Regions from separate parts of the Homo sapiens genome. Here region 2 is linked to region 1. Evidence: fine-mapped expression QTL. A gene starts in region 1. The other region holds a variant in brackets. All regions are shown on one strand. Distances are from middle to middle.

What was found. PIP is the estimated chance that this variant, and not a neighbour inherited with it, causes the effect. A credible set is the group of variants that fine-mapping cannot tell apart.
Region 2: its variant is the best candidate, but not a certain one, in a credible set for the expression of MTA3 in whole blood (TOPMed, PIP 0.63).

Annotation. Positions count from the first base shown.
Region 1 is chr2:42,567,265-42,570,168 of GRCh38, reverse strand. MTA3 (metastasis associated 1 family member 3) reads right to left here and starts at 1,537. Exons shown (of 17, transcript NM_001330442.2): 1 at 1,396-1,537. The coding sequence starts at 1,423. RefSeq lists silencers at 1,180-1,259, 1,320-1,479, 1,750-1,799, 1,860-1,909 and an enhancer at 2,150-2,289.
Region 2 is chr2:42,606,019-42,608,922 of GRCh38, reverse strand. All of the region lies in intron 3 of MTA3 (metastasis associated 1 family member 3), which reads right to left. All of the region lies in intron 2 of LOC105374555 (a long non-coding RNA gene), which reads left to right. Among named protein-coding and RNA genes, the nearest start is that of MTA3, 39 kb to the right of the region's middle. RefSeq lists an enhancer at 2,063-2,814. The variant T/C (reference allele first, on the strand shown) is at 1,317.

The sequences.
Region 1 (2,904 bases):
ACAAAAAAGACACCTCTTATCACTGTGTAGTCAGGGCACGCTAAACATGTGTCCTCTGTACTATAACTACTTCCACATCTTTTTCCTCCAATACAATTTGCCCTGCAGGCTGCTTCTCACATAAAACTATTGACCTAAGACACATTCAGAGCAGGGAGAAAGGCTTCACAGTCCAACCTACATTTCAATCACTACTTAAAAAAAAAAAAAAAAATCAGATGAGCAGAACAGGTTAAGAGGAAGAACGCTGACAAACTTTTCCACAGTTTTACCTGGGAAGATGAGGAAAAAAGGGGGCCGGGGGATCACTTCTAAGAGGCAAAGTGTTCTGGGGGTGATATCAGCATCTTTTTTACCCTTTTACCATATTTAATCCAGATCCATTTAATGTCTTGTGATTAAGAAATTGCTGCAGGCTTTCAACTAAAAGGATAAAATTTTTCAAGTGTGGCTTTTCCTCTCATCTAATAGGCTTGCTGGAAACTTCCCACTGTGTGTTTATCCGAAAGGCAGCTGCATTGTTATTGTCTATCTTAGTGGCTCTTTCGCCGCTCTCTTCTGCAAAGTGGCCTCATTTAGCCAGGCCATTCCCACCACCATCCATCAGAAGCTCGGCTAATGAGCAGAGAAGGAAGAGCCAGTCTCTCATACAAACACGCCACTTATCTGAATTATTATTTTACCAGGAAAGAGGGAGGAGGGCGTCGTGAGTAGGGAGAAAGTTTGTTTGACCTTATTTCTCTCTTCCGCAGAAGACTGGGAAGGAGGCAGGCAGCAGAGCAAACGTCCAGGCAGAGCTCAACTCCCCACCTCCGGCTGAGGTTCCCAGCTCCCACGAAGCCCCATTCGTGGGGGACTGGACCAGAAACGAAAAGGAGGGGGGCCGAGGAAGGGGAGGTGCAGGGCCCCGGCACGCAAACAGGCCCGTCCAGCTGGGCCCCTGGCTGGGCCCCCACCGCCCCCACCCCCACCCCCACCCCAGGCTCCCACTGAGTGGGGAAGAAGCAGGAGAGGGGATGTCCCCTCATCCTCTCCAGCGCCTAGAAGCCACGCAAGAAGGCCACCTTCTCAGGGGGCTCGACGGGCCCTACCCCGATGAGGGTTTCGTGGAGGGGGGTGTCTGGTAATTCGTACCCCCAAGTAGAGGCCTGGCCCTAAACACTGGGCGGGGTGCGAGGGTGAAGGTGGCCCCGGGCCCTCGCGAGCCCGCGTGGGGGGAGGGGAAGGGATGGGTGGGGGTGGGGAGTCCCGGCCCCTCTGCGGGCCCCGGCGCCCCAGCCCACTGCGACCTCAGCCCCGGCGCCCTTGGCTCCCGGCAGTTGGCGTGCACTCGCCCCGGCCCCCCGCTCCCGGAACCCGCTCCCACACGGGCCGGGTCGGGCCGAGCCTGCCTACCTCCGACCCGGTACATGTTGGCCGCCATGTCCGCCCGCCCGCCCGCGGAGCCCGAGCCGAGCCCCGCCCGCCGCCGCCGCCTCCTCCTCAGCCTCAGCCGCGACCGCCGCTGCCGCCGCCGCCGTCGCTGCTGCCTCGCCACGGGGGGGAAGGGAGGGAAGGGAGGGGACAGGGGGTGGGGGAAGTAAAGGGGATGGTACGCCGAGGGGTGGGGGCTGGTGCCCGCCCCCAGCGCCAGGCTAGCAAGGCCGAGTGGGCCGGGCCGGGGGAGGCCCGGGGAGGCTGGAGCGCTGCGGGGCCAGCGGGAATTGGGGGGGAGGGGGAGGGGAAAGGGAGTGGGAGTGGGAGGGAGGGTGGGGGGCCTTGCTGGAAGTGGAGGGCCCTGGGGTCAGGGTCCTGGCTGAGGCAGAGGCCTGCACTCAAATGCGGACCAGGGGCTGTTAGAGAATTAGAGTGGGGGCTGGGGCTTAGCCTCTCCCCAGCACCTCTTCCCCCACCCAGGGTACCCCGTCACCTGTCCACCCCAAGACAGGTCCTCCTTCCCTACCTCTGTCCCTGGGGAACCCCCCTGTGGCTGCCCTAGTAGGCAAGCGCCAGTCTCAATGCAAACTCTTGGATGCAAATAAGTGCAGGCAGCAGGGTGCCTTCCTCGCGGTGAGATTCAAGGGGCCGGCCTGGAGCCTGCAGGCTCTAGGGCCAGGAAGATTCCGGGTGCTTCCCGCCTCGCCAGAGACCCAGCTGGGGACAGAGGTAGAAAAACTCCCTTCCTAGGCCACCCTAACTGCGTCATCGTTTACCCCAAAACTGGGCTGAGCAGAACCAACTGTCCAACACCCAGATGGAGGCCCTGGCTCTAGACGGGCACTGTATATGCAGGGCCTGTTCTGCTGGGAAAAGGGACCTTTAGGAGTGAGGGGCTTCCTTTGTCCATGGGGGAACAGGGCCCTACAGTTCACAATCACCACCACCCCCAAACAGAGGAGATTGTATTCAATCAGTTTCATGTCGATGGACACTTAACTGGTTACGTGCCTAAAGCTTCTAAATGGTTATTGTCCCAGGCCAATTCTCTAAACAACCTCTGTTTTCACGGCCTTCCTACTCTCACAGATACAAAAAAAAAAAAACAACGTTGAATCTTAGCTGGCGATCCCCCAAATGAACACAAATAACTTTCTTTAGAGAAGCCAGTCCATTCCAAAGTACTCCCAGACATTGCTGCATAATAAACACGAAGAAGATTTCTTGGTGTGGTGGCTTGTTTGGAATGTGTGGTGATACACAGCTGTGTGCTGTCGACTCTGGGTTTAAGGTCTGTGCGGGGCTAAGAGGTGCCCCCAGAAAAGAAGGTTGTGTTTTGGTGGTTTGGTGATGACATTTGTGATGGTCACTTATCACAAAGTATTGAGATGAAAAAACTGTGCATAGCTGAGGCAAAATATAAAAATAAAAAATAAAGCACTATTGAATTACATTGACTCTATGACCTGTTTCCTCGTCTATAAAATG
Region 2 (2,904 bases), 39 kb before region 1:
TATTACATATCAATTTAAAAATTAATTCACTTTTTTTTCGGAGATAGAGTTTGCTCTGTCGCCCAGGCTGGAGTGCAGTGGTGTAATCTCAGCTCACTGCAAACACCACCACCTAGGTTCAAGCAATTCTTGTGCCTTAGCCTCCAGAGTAGCTGTGATTACAGGCGTACATCACCACACCTGGCTAACTTTATGTATTTTTAGTAGAGACAGCGTTACACCATGTTGCCCAGGCTGGTCTCGAACTCCTGGGCTCAAGTGATCTGCCTGCTTTGGCCTCCCAAAGTGCTGGGATTACAGGCATGAGCCACCACACCCAACCTCACAGAAGGGATTTTATCAAATATAATGCTCTTGTTGAAGTAGTTCTTTATGAATAGCATGAGGGTAATGAATGGAGTAAGTATCAGATCTTTTCTACTTTCAAACTTTTAAAACTGAATTGAAAATGAACCTTAAACAGTAACTTAGAAAAAGATGCACCTAGCTCAAAGCAAGAATAAAGCAATTTAAAATTCTTTGGATATTCTTTTTAATGAACTACTCAAAGAGAAATATAGCACTAAAAGGGCCATTTACTTGCAGGTCTAATAACATTTCACCAGTGAAGATTGATAAAGTTGCTGCTGCATTGGCACTATTAGCACTAGAAAATATCACATACAAAATTACACTCTTTACCTAATTAGGATTTGACAAATTGTTGTTGTATAAGACACAGCTAACTGAATTCTAATGCATACCCTACAGAGCTAAAACAGCAACCAGCTCTACAACAGCAACAGTAAATCTTACGTTCTTATACGATCCCTTGGTTCACCATAAAAAGGACCAAAATCACTGAAATCCAACCTAACCAAAGACAAAAATCACAACGGCATCTCTCATGATGCAGATCACTAATGAAAACCACTTTTTAAAATTTACCAGTTAAATTTCAAATTTCATTTATGTATTTGTATAACTTTTTTTTAGACGGAGTCTCGCTCTGTCACCCAGGCTAGAGTGCAGTAGCACAATCTCGGCTCACTGCAACCTCCATCTCCCGGGTTCAAGTGATTCTCCTGCCTCAGCCTCCTGAGTAGCTGGGATTACAGGCGTGTGCCACCACACCTGGCTAATTTTTGTATTTTTAGTAGAGACAGGGTTTCATCATGTTGCCCAGGCTGATCTCGAACTCCTGAGCTCAAGCAATCTGTCCACCTCGGTGTGAGATAAATCAATTATTAGAGTGGATGAAGAGTAAAGAGAATTCAAAAGATAAATTTAAAGTTAGACAGGCCAGGTGTGATGGCTCATGCCTGCAATTCCAGCAC[T/C]TTGGGAGGCTGAGGCAAGCAGATCGCTTGAGCCCAGGAGTTCAAGACCAAACATCTCTACAAAAAATACAAAAATTAGCCAAGCCCATGGTCCCAGCTACTCAGAGACTGATGTAGGAGGATCGCTTGAGCCCAGGAGGTGGAAGGTGCTGTGAGCTGAGATCGCACCACTGCACTCCAGCCTGGGCGATACAGCAAGACCCTATGTCGAAATAAATAAATAAATAAAGTTGAACAATGCCTCTGAGCCAGAGTCTGATCCATGAGACTCTCACCAATCTCCAGCGGGAGACTCCTCTTTGCTACAAAGCAGCACCCACATACGCTTAAGGTACTTCACAGTATGCTTTGCTCTACTCTACAGTTAACTGATTTCACTGCATCCCTTGAGAACAATGACAGGTCACTTATCTTTGTATCCACCCTATTTTACTTGCGGGGTAAAAGTGAACCTCAAGAAACATTCAGAGCTCTACCCTCTACCTCTACCTACCTCTACCTCTACCTCTACCCCTACCCCTACCCCTACCCCTACCCCTACCTCTACCTCCGGTCTCCCTCTCATGCGGAGCCGAAGCTGGACTGTACTGCTGCCATCTCGGCTCACTGCAACCTCCCTGCCTGATTCTCCTGCCTCAGTCTGCCGAATGCCTGCGATTGCAGGCACGCGCCGCCACGCCTGACTGGTTTTGGTGGAGACGGGGTTTCGCTGTGTTGGCCAGGCCGGTCTCCAGCCCCTAACCGCGAGTGATCCGCCAACCTCGGCCTCCCGAGGTGCCGGGATTGCAGACGGAGTCTCGTTCACTCAGTGCTCAATGGTGCCCAGGCTGGGGTGCAGTGGCGTGATCTCGGCTCACTACAACCTACACCTCCCAGCCGCCTGCCTTGGCCTCCCAAAGTGCCGAGATTGCAGCCTCTGCCCAGCCGCCACCCCGTCTGGGAAGTGAGGAGTGTCTCTGCCTGGCCGCCCATCGTCTGGGATGTGAGGAGCCCCTCTGCCTGGCTGCCCAGTCTGGAAAGTGAGGAGCGTCTCCGCCCGGCCGCCATCCCATCTAGGAAGTGAGGAGCGCCTCTTCCCAGCCGCCATCACATCTAGGAAGTGAGGGGCGTCTCTGCCCGGCCGCACATCATCTGGGATGTGAGGAGATCGTCTGAGATGTGGGGAGCGCCTCTGCCCCGCCGCCCCGTCTGGGAGGTGAGGAGCGTCTCTGCCCGGCCGCCCCGTCTGAGAAGTGAGGAGCCCCTCCGCCCGGCAGCTGCCCCGTCTGAGAGGTGAGGAGCCTCTCCGCCCGGCAGCCACCCGATCTGGGAAGTGAGGAGCGTCTCCGCCCGGCAGCCACCCCATCTGGGAAGTGAGGAGAGTCTCCGCCCGGCAGCCACCCCGTCCGGGAGGGAGGTGGGGGGGGGTCAGCCCCCCGCCCGGCCAGCCGCCCCGTCCGGGAGGTGAGGGGCGCCTCTGCCCGGCCGCCCCTACTGGGAAGTGAGGAGCCCCTCAGCCCGGCCAGCCACCCCGTCCGGGAGGGAGAGGGGGGGTCAGCCCCCCCACCCGGCCAGCCGCCCCGTCCGGGAGGGAGGTGGGGGGGTCAGC